2 separate regions of the Homo sapiens genome follow, and region 2 is linked to region 1. Evidence: fine-mapped expression QTL. A gene starts in region 1. The other region holds a variant in brackets. All regions are shown on one strand. Distances are between the middles of the regions. Region 1 holds the start of DALRD3 (DALR anticodon binding domain containing 3). Region 2 overlaps IHO1 (interactor of HORMAD1 1).

Region 1 (5,355 bases):
CGGACGAACATCTGACCAAAGAGGTGTGGTCGAGGCTCCTGAAAGAGAAAGGGCCTGCTGGTCTCATCCTCTGCTTCCTTTGCCTTTACCCTATACCTCTCTGCACGTCCCACCCCATTTTGCTGTGTGCTCACCCCCAGGATGTGTACCCGGTTGTAGTAGGAGCTGAAATCCATGCTGAGCTGTACCAGGAACTTGCATATCTAGAGACAGAGACTGAGTCACTGGCCCATCTCTTTGCTCTTGTGCCCCAGGCCAGAATAAAGAATAGAGTGTAGAGTGTCCTGGTTGTCTATGCCTCACCATCTCTGTGCGTACAGCAATGTGGAGCCCCGGGGCTGTGCAGTCCAGCACTGCTGTCCGGCTCAGCAGATCCGGAAAGGGGAGGATACTGTTGAAGAGCAACAACCACTCACCCTGTTGGGGAGAAAGGTGCTGGGAGGGGAAGTCCAGGCCTCCTTGTGCCAGCTACCAGGAGGGACACTCACCTCATCATGTAGCAGTGAGAAGTCCAGACTGCTCACAGGAGGAAAAGTGGGGTACAGACCTTGTTCCATACTACACTTGTAACTCTCAAAGAGTGTGGCAAGACGGGCACAATTATACATGACAAAGGTGCCACTCTTTGTGCCCTTCGTGGAGATACTGCTGTCAGCCAGAGCCAGGAAGAGCTGGGGAATAGAAGCACAGCTGCAGAGAGAGAAGGCAGCCACCACACCCTGTGCCCCAACACTGGCCCTGTCAGGCTCCCAGGCTCACCTGACTCTGTGGGGCTGTGCTCAGCATCTCAAACTTGATGGTGGCCACAGAGAGAACACCAAAGATCTCTGTCCAGGCTGGGTCTGAGGGAGTATAGGGTTGGTCAGTCAGTCTGCAGGCAAGGGCAGGGATGCAAAAAACCTGCCCCTAACCCAGAACATAGCCAGGGTTTCCCAGGCACACCTTGTGCCAGATCCCCACCATGCTTCAGTGCTGAGGCCTTGCACACCTGGGTATGCCGGAACCTGTGTTTGGAAGAGAGGAAGGCCAGTGGGCAGGGTCCTGGGTAAAGAGTCCCCCCTCATTACCCTGGCTTAGGTTGGTGTTCCTCCCAGCCTCACTCACTCGTAGTACTCAGGGGCAGTCATCAGAGTGCCAGGTGCACCAGCTACTTTCACAGGGCCACAGATGAGGTGCTTCTGTCAGAAAGATGTCAGGGGCTCAGCCTAGTTGGCGCTACTCTCCAGGAAGTCCCTTGAGGAGCCCAAATCTGGTGCCTCTACTCAGCCCAGACTCCCTCAAATTGGAACTGCCAGGTTGAGTGCCTCCGTCTACCCAGCCACTCAGGCTACGCATGGTTCATCCTTCTCAACCTGGTCTTCAGTGTTCTTGGGATGTGTCTACAGACCCCCCTTCCCCAGAGCCTCTGCACCTGCTGTACATGCCCTCTCAAGTCCAGCAACTCCCCCAAGGTCAAGTGTTGGTTTCTGTCAGCTAACAAGCCCCTCGGTGGGTTTTCAAGGGCCCTCTGAGGTTGGGGGTTAGGTGGTGGGGAGCTCCACCATCATTATTAACCTACCTGTCTGAGTGGAGCCTTGTCAACCAACTTCTGCCAAAGCAGGTCCAACTTCTGTTGCTGGAACTCCTCCTCACAGCTAACAACATGTACAACCAGGCAGCCGCCTGTACCAGTATCTGAGGCCCCAGCCTAAGGGAGGACAATCATAACTGTGGAAGTACAGTATACTTGGTTTGGGAGAACCTACAGGGCTGGGAGTCACTAACCAGGCCTGGGTGGCTGTCCTCGGGCCAATGCCATAGAGCCTCTTGCAGCTCAGCCAGCACAGAGAGGAGATCCTCAGTCACTGAAAAGAGAACAGACAGGTGCTGAGACTGACAAGAAGCAGAGATGTGCCCCTAACCCCCTCCTGCCTTTTCTGGCCCTGCTAGGCTTCAGGTCCTACCCAGACAGTTGTCCAGGTTGGGGTCATAGCCAGCTGTGCGGCCCTGTTCTTCCACCAGCTCCTTCAGACACAGTCTGCCTAGGATGCCAGGGGACAGTGTCCTCCCGTCATTAGCAGAGGTAAGTTCTTCAAGGGCGTGGCTCCTCAGGGTGTGGGAGGAAGCTCTCTCCGAGGCAGCGGGCCAGTCCACCCGCAGTTGCTGCAGGAAGGTCAGCATGTGCGGATCCCGCACAGCTGGCACTAGGCGCACGCACACCCTGCGAAGGGAGGGCGGCCGCCTCAGTCTGAGCACCTGGTCCAGCTCGCCACGACTTCCCACCTCCAGCCGCAGTCCCCACGGGCGGCGCCGCTCGCTTTCTAGGTACCCGGCAGTCCCACTTTCTCCATTCCGGCCCCGCGGCCCCGCTCACCCGTGAGCGCGCAGGGCTCGCGCCAGGTGATCGGCCACGAGCACCGTACGCAGCTGGCTCAAGCGGAGTGCGCAGGGGGAGCTGCGCAGTGCTGGGCAGTGTAGTAAGACGCGCTGGCCCAGCGAGGCAGGCGAGGCGGGCGTGGCATAGGCGGCCACGGCGCTGAGGACGCGCTCGAAGACGGCGGACCGCTGCAGTTGGAGAGACAGACCCGCGGGGGTCGGCGCGCAGCGCAGCACCGGGGCCACACCGGGGCCCTGCAGGCAGGCGAGGGCATGGAGCAAATGCTCCGGAACCTGCGGGAGAACGGGCGTGTAAAAGAGCCACGGCACGGGGCCCATCTCCCGGCCGCACGGCCCCGCCCGGCTCACGCCCACCTGGCCGTCATCGAAGCGCGCCTGCAGCGCGCGGTGCGGTGCCAGAAAGTCTCGGGAACGCAGGTGGCGGGTGCGCGTCTCCTTGATCCACACCGGACCGCCTGGCCCCAGGGCCGCGTTGAGGGCCCCCAGCGTCTCCCCGACCCCAAGGCGCCTGGTCGCCATGGTGACCGGAAGGAGTAAGCGGAACCGGAAAAAAATTTAGGGAGGTGGAACTTCCGGAAAGGACCGACTAGCTGGGGCGGGGATGCGGCGGTGGTCCCCGTAAGTGGACAGGTGCGCCAGTGGTAGCCCTGTCGGCTGCTTTCGACCTACCGCCCCCAGCGCCCCTTCCGCGTGGTCCACCTGCACAGCCGGGCCCCGGATCTGAAATCTCGGGGCCCTCCCTGGGCCTAGGGTTCTTTCGCTGTGACCCAGGCCTTAACCAGGAAAAGGATCCTCGCGACCCGGTGGGCGCTTAGACCGGGTACCGTCTCTTCTCATCGAAGTCTCACATGTTTGTTTTAATAACATTTCATTTCTCCCATTTTACACATGATGAATATTCGTCACTGGAATAAGGCAGTATAACATTAAGGCCACTTTCACGACCTACTTAAAATATCTCGTTTTAAAAAGAATAGTGTTCCGCGGTTTCAGGTTATTTGCAAGCATTTTCTCGTTTGAGATATGGGTGTTTTTTTGTTTGTTTGAGACGGAGTCTTGCTCTTGTCTCCCAGGCTGGAGTGCAGTGGCACGATCTCGGCTCACTGCAGCCTCCACCTCCCGGATTCACAGGATTCTCCTCCTCAGCCTCCCGAGTAGCTGGGATTACGGGCGCCCGCCACCACGCCCGGCTAATTTTTGTATTTTTAGTAGAGACGGGGTTTCGCCATGTTGGCCAGGCTGGTCTCGAACTCCTGACCTCGTGACCTGCCCGCCTCGGCCTCCGAAAGTGCTGGGATTACAGGCATCAGCCACTGCACCCAGCCCGGGTGGTCTTTATGCCCAATAAATAAGCACTCTGATACAGTTGGCGGTTTTCTTCTCTTGATACCTGAGAAATCACAACCATCATGATGGCTTCCAGAATTACCAGACTTTTTTTTTTTTTTTTTGAGACGGAGTTTCGCTCCTGTTGCCCAGGCTGGAGTACAGTGGTGTGATCTTGGCTCACCGCAACCTCCCCCTCCCGGGTTCAAGTGATTATCCTGCCTCAGTCTCCCAAGTAGCTGGGATTACAGGCACGCGCCACCACGCCCGGCTACTTTTGTATTTTTAATAGAGACGGGGTTTCTCCATGTTTGTCAAGCCTCGAACTCCCGACCTCAGGTGATCCGCCTGCCTCGGCCTCCCAAAGTGCTGGGATTACAGGCGTGAGCCACCGCGCCCGGCTCAGAATGACCAGCTTTTAATGTGACTCCTTTAACCTGGTGTGCTTTAACAACGATCCTTAAAGCTTCCTGTTTTAGGCAACAGCCATTTACGGGCCAACCAAATAATGCGACCATAATAGAAAATAGGCCTCAGTTGGAGTATCTTGCTCCTCTACCAATAGGAAAGGTCTTTTTCTTTCTCCCACAAAGGTTCCCAAATGTCTTCATTTCACTGTAACTTACTCACCCCCCACCCCACCCCCATTCCTTTTAATAGAGAAGCTAACTCAGTAGAGAGAGTTGGGAAATCCGGAGAGCAGGGAAACCCAGGGGCAGGAAAAGCTTGGCAAGGCCCCTTTCTGGGCCAGGGCTGAGGCCCTGCTGGGAGGCGCCGAAAGAGCACTGGGCGGACACGACATTCCCGATGGCTTCTCGGGTGCCCACTCAACGGGAGTGATCGTGTCATTCCAAAGCGCTTTCCATTCTGAAGGTGCATGACCTGGAGACAACTGCTTAGCAGGGTTGGGAACCCTCAGTCAAACTGAGGACTTCAGATACTCTCATCCACGAAGACGGTTGGGGTGGTTTTTCCCCAGGAAGTAAGAGGGCTATCTTTAGCGAGATGCGGGCTGAGGCAGCCCTGGGGGAGTCACTACCATTGCAGCCCTACCCAGAGGTCCTGGGTCCACCCTCCCTCGCCAATCCTCCCCAGGGTTCCAGAGATGGCCACCAGCCTCGGCTCTCCCACGTCTACACCCATCACCTCCAGCCTGAGGGCGCAACTGAGAGGAACTGAGACCCAAGCAGCTCAGTAAAGTATGTCTGGGGGTCAGGGGCACCCCATCTGGGCCAGGGCGCTGCTCAGGCAGGAGAGCAGGGGACGAAATCCAAGCGCAGCTGGAATGCTCTGGAGACAACAGCTGCTTTTGGGATTCCGTTGCCCGCTGTCCAGCCGTTGGCGGGGGGCGGGGGAGCTCCTGCCCCCAGGTCACTCGCCCTGGGGCCACATCAGAACCCGCCCATCCCCAGTCCCAGGAGGAAGACCCGGGAGTAGGTTGTGAAACGGAGTCTAGAGGGAACAAGACGCTCACCTGGGCCACAGAACAATAGAAGGGGAGGTGGGGGCCTCCCCTGGGACCGGGTCCCGATCCGGATTAGATCCGTGGGGCAGGATTAGCCCTGTTGGTCCCACGAAGCCTGGGCCACTGGTGCGGTGACGGTGGTGGGGCGGGCTTCGGAATCCGTCAGGAGGGAAGCGCGCCCGTGGGGC
Region 2 (5,364 bases), 190 kb after region 1:
ATCACCTCTATGTGTTTTTTTTATCTTTATTCAGCTAACAAAGAACTTGCTTACTTTGCTCCTATTCTGTTTTCCCCACTTATGCTGTCCAGAGTTGCAACCTTTGTAAATCTAAACATCGACATCTCAAAATCCACTACCAACAGAGAGGGTACATGGGGCTTGATCCACTCAAGAGCAAGGAACAGTGTACTTTTTATGTAAACCATTGGAAAACTCCATACTTCATAGAAAGTATAAAATTGGATGATCTAAAGACCTCTTGTGTGGTAGGGGTTGAACAGTCATGACTGAATATAATTGACAGCTTCCTGACCTTTGTAGGACATCTTTCTTCTGGTTGAATTCTGGGAAGATGGACATCTCAGGCTTGGGTAAACCATGTGGTAAACACAGACATGCTGCACAAGTAAAGGCAGGATAACTAATCAAAAGGAAGAAATGTTACTTCATCTTCTACCACACATATATTGAATCTCTCCTGTTTAATCCAGTTAACTGGAGTTGCTGGTTTCATTCTCAACATTAAGGGGGGAGTTTGGTCATGTAGACTGAGAGAGACTACCTTTTTTACCTTCTAGTCATACAGGACCTCCTTAGACTCACCCCTTTGATGCTGGCACACTGTCAGATACCTGGAACTATAAGGGCCTTTTAAATGCTTGCATTTCTGGCTGGGCACAGTGGCTTACGCCTGTAATCCCAGCACTTTGGGAGGCCAAGGCAGGTGGATCACTTGAGGTCAGGAGTTCGGCCCAACCTGGTCAACATGGTGAGACCCTGTCTCTACTTAAAAAAAAAAAAAATTAGCCAGGAGTGACAGCACATGCCTGTAATTGCGGCTACTCAGGAGGCTGAGGCAGGAGAATAGCTTGAGCCCGGGAGGCAGCGGTTGCAGTTAGCTAAGATAACACCACTGCATTCCAGCCTGCGTGACAGAGTGGGACTTCATCTAAAAAAAAAAAAGGCTTGTATTTCTAATTCCATGAGTATAAGGTATTTTGAGGTTTATATGTATTTGCAAAAAGCAAATGACATGTCTTTTTTTTTTTGAGAAGGAGTCTTGCACTGTCGCCCAGGCTGGAGTGCAGTGGTGTGATCTCGGCTCACTGCAAGCTCTGCCTCCCGGGTTCATGCCATTCTCCTGCCTCAGCCTCCCAAGTAGCTGGGACTACAGGAGCCCACCACCATGCCCGGCTAATTTTTTATATTGTTTTAGTAGAGACAGGGTTTCACCGTGTTAACCAGGATAGTCTCGATCTCCTGACCTCGTAATCCACTTGCCTTGGCCTCCCAAAGTGCTGGGATTACAGGCATGAGCCACCGCACCCAGCCTCTTTCTTTCTTTCTTTTTTTTTTTTTTTAAGAGACAGGGTCTTGCTTTGTTGCCTGGGCTGGAATGCAGTGGTGGGATCACAGTTTACAGAAGCCTTGAATTCCTGGGCTCAAGTGATCCTGCCGCCTCAGCCTCCCAAGTAGCTGAGACTACAGGTGTATGTTGCCATGCCTAGCTTGTTTATTTATTTAAATTTTTTATTTTTAATTTTTTGACATAGTTTGAGAGATAATTTTTTGAGATTTTTTTTTTCTTCGTCGCCCAAGCTGGAGTATAGTGGCACAATCTTAGCTCACTACAGCCTTGACCTCTTGGGCTCAAGTGATCCTCCCATCTCAGCCTCCCAAGTAGGTGGGACTATAGGCTTGTGCCACCACACCCTGCTAATTTTTTTTTTTTGAGGCAGAGTCTCACTCGATCGCCCAGGCTGGAGTGCAGTGGCACGATCTTGGCTCACTGCAACCTCTGCCTCCCCGGTTCCAGTGATTCTCCTCCTCAACCTCCTGAGTAGCTGGGATTACAGGCACCCGCCACCACACCCAGCTAATTTTTTTGTATTTTTAGTAGAGACAGGGTTTCTTCATGTTGGCCAGGCTGTTCTCAAACTCCTGACCTCAAATGATCCACCTGCCTCTGCTTCCCAAAGTGCAGGGATTACAGGCGTGAGCCACTGCGCCCGGCTTTTTTTTTTTTTTTTTGAGATGGGGTCTCACTCTGTCGCCCCAGGCTGGAGTGCAGTCGTGTGACCTTGGCTCACTGCAACCTCTGCCTCCTGGGTTCAAGCAATTCTCCTGCCTCAGCCTCCCAAATAGCTGGGACTACAGGCACGTCCCACCACACCCAGGTAATTTTTGTATTTTTAGTAGAGACAGGGTTTCACCATGTTAGCCAGGATGGTCTGGATCTCCTGACCTAGTGATCCACCCGCCTCGGTCTCCCAAAGTGCTGGGATTACACATGTGAGCCACTGCTCCTGGCCTCTCCATTTAGTTTTTTTTTTTTTTTTTTTGAGCTGGGGTCTCGCTCTGTCGCCCAGGCTGGAGTGCAGTGGCGCGATCTCGGCTCACTGCAAGCTCCACCTCTTGTGTTCATGCCATTCTCCTGCCCCGGCCTCCTGAGTAGGTGGGACTACAGGCACCCACCACCACGCCTGGCTAATTTTTTGTATTTTTTAGTAGAGACGGGGTTTCACCCTGTTAGCCACGATGGTCTTGATCTCCTGACCTAGTGATCCGCCCTCCTCGGCCTCCCAAAGTGCTGGGATTACAGGCGTGAGCCACTGCGCCCGGCTTCCATTTAGTTCTAATTTGATTTCTGTCATCAGAGTTTTGTAGTTTTCCTCATATAGATATTGTATATATTTTGTCACAGTTATACCTAAGTATTTCTTTTTTGGGGGTGCAAATATAAATGGTTTTGTGTTTCTATTTATTTACTTATTTTTTTTGAGACAGTGGCATGATACAAAAATTAGCCAGGTGTGGTGGCGGGTGCTTGTAATCCCAGCTACTCAGAAGAATTGCTTGAACCTAGGAGGCAAAGGTTGCAGTGAGCCAAGATCGAGCCACGGCACTCCAGACTGGGTGA[CAA/C]GAGCAAAACTCCGTCTCAAAAAAAAAAAACAGAAATTTTCACTAATTGGATGGGAATATAGCTGCTGGAATGTCTTCGTGTACATATAATAGTCACTAGTAATCTTTGGAAAAAATTATACTGTTAACTTTCTTAATATTCACCTATTCTTTCTAATAGGTATAACTATAAGAAATGAATTTTAATGTCTGGAATATCAAAGAGATGCTCAGTATTCCTTCAGGCTCTGGGTAAGTTTTCTGGTTATATTGTCTGATCCTTAAGAGGATTTTCTGGCCGGGCATGATGGCTCACACCTGTAATCCCAGCACTTTGGGAGGCCAAGGTGGGCAGATCACAAGATCAGGAGATCAGGACCATCCTGGCTAACACGGTGAAACCCCGTCTCTACTAAAAATACAAAAAAATTTAGCCGGGCATGGTGGCGGGTGCCTATAGTCCCAGCTACTCAGGAGGCTGAGGTAGGAGAATGGCGTGAACCTGGGAGGTGGAGCTTGCAGTGAGCCGAGATTGCGCCACTGCACTCCAGCCTGGGCGACAGAGCGAGACTCCGTCTCAAAAAAAAAAAAAAAAAAAAGGATTTTCCAGTTTCATTGATTTCATAGAAAATGGGTTCCTGGTCAGGCATGGTAGCTCACGCCTATAATCCCAGCACTTTGAGAGGCCCAGGTGGGTGGATCACCTGAGGTGATCAGGAGTTCACGACTAGCTTGGCCAACGTGGCAAAACCCCATCTCCACTAAAAAAAAAAATACAAAGAGTAGCCAGGCAAGGTGGTGTGCACCTGTAATCTCAGCTACTGGGGAGGCTGAGGCAGGAGAACTGCTTGAACCTGGGAGGCGGAGCTTGTGGTGGGCTGAGATTGCGCCACTGCACTCTAGCCTGGGCAACAGAGTGAGACTCAATCTCAAAAAAAAAAAAAAAAAGAGGGTTCCCTTCCCATCAGGTTATAATAATGGAAGTGTGTCCAGAATTGGTGGGTTCTTGGTTTCACTGACTTCAAGAATGAGGCCAAAGACCCTTGCGGTGAGTGTTACAGTTCTTAAAAGCGGCATGTCCAGAGTTTGTTCCTTCTGATGTTTGGATGTGTTTGGAGTTTCTTCCTTCTGGTGGGTTTGGGGTCTTGCTGGCTCAGGAGTGAAGCTGCAGACCTTTGCGGTGAGTGTTAACAGCTCATAAAGGCAGTGCGGACCCAAAGATTGAGCAGGAGCAAGATTTATTGCAAAGAGTGAAAGAACAAATCTTCCGCAGTGTGGAAGAGGATCGGAGCTGGTTGCCACTGCTGGCTCGGGCATCCTCCTTTTATTCCCTTATCTGGCCCCACCCACATCCTGCTGATTGGTCCATTTTACAGAGAGCTGATCGGTCTGTTTTACAGAGAGCTGATTGGTCCGTTTTGACAGGGTGCTGATTGGTGTGTTCACAATCCCTGAGCTAGACACAAAAGTTCTCCAAGTCCCCACAGAGCACTGATTGGTGCATTTACAAACCTTGAGCTAGACACAGGGTGCTGATTGGCGTGTTTGCAAACCTTGAGCTAGACAGAGTGCTGATTGTTGTATTTACAATCCCTTAGCTAGACATAAAGGTTCTCCAAGTCCCCACTAGATTAGCTAGACACAGAGCACTGATTGGTGCATTTACAAACCTTGAGCTAGGCACAGAGTGCTGATTGTTGTATTTACAATTCCTTAGCTAGACATAAAGGTTCTCCAAGTCCCCACCAGATTAGCTGATACAGAGTGCTGATTGGTGCATTTACAAACCTTGAGCTAGACACAGAGTGCTGATTGGTGTATCTACAATCCTTTAGCTAGACATAAAGTTTCTCCAAGTCCCCACTAGACTCAGGAGCCCAGCTGGCTTCACCTAGTGGATCCTGCACTGGGGCCGCAGGCGGAGCTGCCTGCCAGTCCCACACCATGTGCCCACACTCCTCAGCCCTTGGGTGGTCGATGGGACCGGGCACCACGGAGCAGGGGGCAGTGCTAGTCAGGGAGGCTGGGGCCACGTAGGAGCCCATGGTGGGCCGGCACTGCTGGAGGACCCGGTGCACCCTCCACAGCTGCTGGCCCAGGTGCTAGGCCCCTCACTGCCTGGGGCCAGCGGCGCAGGCTGGCTGCTCTGAGTGCAGGGCCTGCCAAGCCCATGCCCACCTGGAACTCGAGCTGGCCCGCAAGTGCATGCGCAGCCCTGGTTTCTGCCCGTGCCTCTCCATCACACCTCCCTGCAAGCAGAGGGAGCTGGCTCTGACCTCGGCTAGCCCAGAGAGGGGCTCCCATAGTGCAGCGACAGGCTGAAGGGCTCCTCAAGCATGGCCAGAGTGGACGCCAAGGCCAAGGAAGCTCCGAGAGCAAGCGAGGGCTGCCAGCATGCTGTCACCTCTCAGAGGTACCTCATACAGACTCTTCTTCTCTTCATCTCTTCTGTATCTGCTG

What was found. PIP is the estimated chance that this variant, and not a neighbour inherited with it, causes the effect.
Region 2: its variant is fine-mapped to the expression of DALRD3 in whole blood (TOPMed, PIP above 0.99).

Annotation. Positions count from the first base shown.
Region 1 is chr3:49,015,670-49,021,024 of GRCh38, forward strand. It overlaps DALRD3 (DALR anticodon binding domain containing 3), which reads right to left and starts at 2,911. Exons shown (of 12, transcript NM_001009996.3): 1 at 2,731-2,911; 2 at 2,354-2,649; 3 at 1,944-2,200; 4 at 1,765-1,844; 5 at 1,559-1,687; 6 at 1,105-1,178; 7 at 943-1,004; 8 at 760-842; 9 at 489-671; 10 at 304-417; 11 at 135-203; 12 at 1-38. The coding sequence starts at 2,895. It overlaps WDR6 (WD repeat domain 6), which reads left to right. Exons shown (of 6, transcript NM_018031.6): 6 at 1-282. MIR425 (microRNA 425) reads right to left here and starts at 4,565; the gene lies at 4,479-4,565. It overlaps MIR191 (microRNA 191), which reads right to left and starts at 5,040; the gene lies at 4,949-5,040. It also overlaps a transcript of NDUFAF3 not described here. RefSeq lists enhancers at 1,332-1,401, 1,687-2,458 and a silencer at 1,907-2,141.
Region 2 is chr3:49,208,681-49,214,044 of GRCh38, forward strand. It overlaps IHO1 (interactor of HORMAD1 1), which reads left to right. Exons shown (of 8, transcript NM_001135197.2): 2 at 3,086-3,156. The coding sequence starts at 3,101. Among named protein-coding and RNA genes, the nearest start is that of IHO1, 12 kb to the left of the region's middle. The variant CAA/C (reference allele first, on the strand shown) is at 2,924.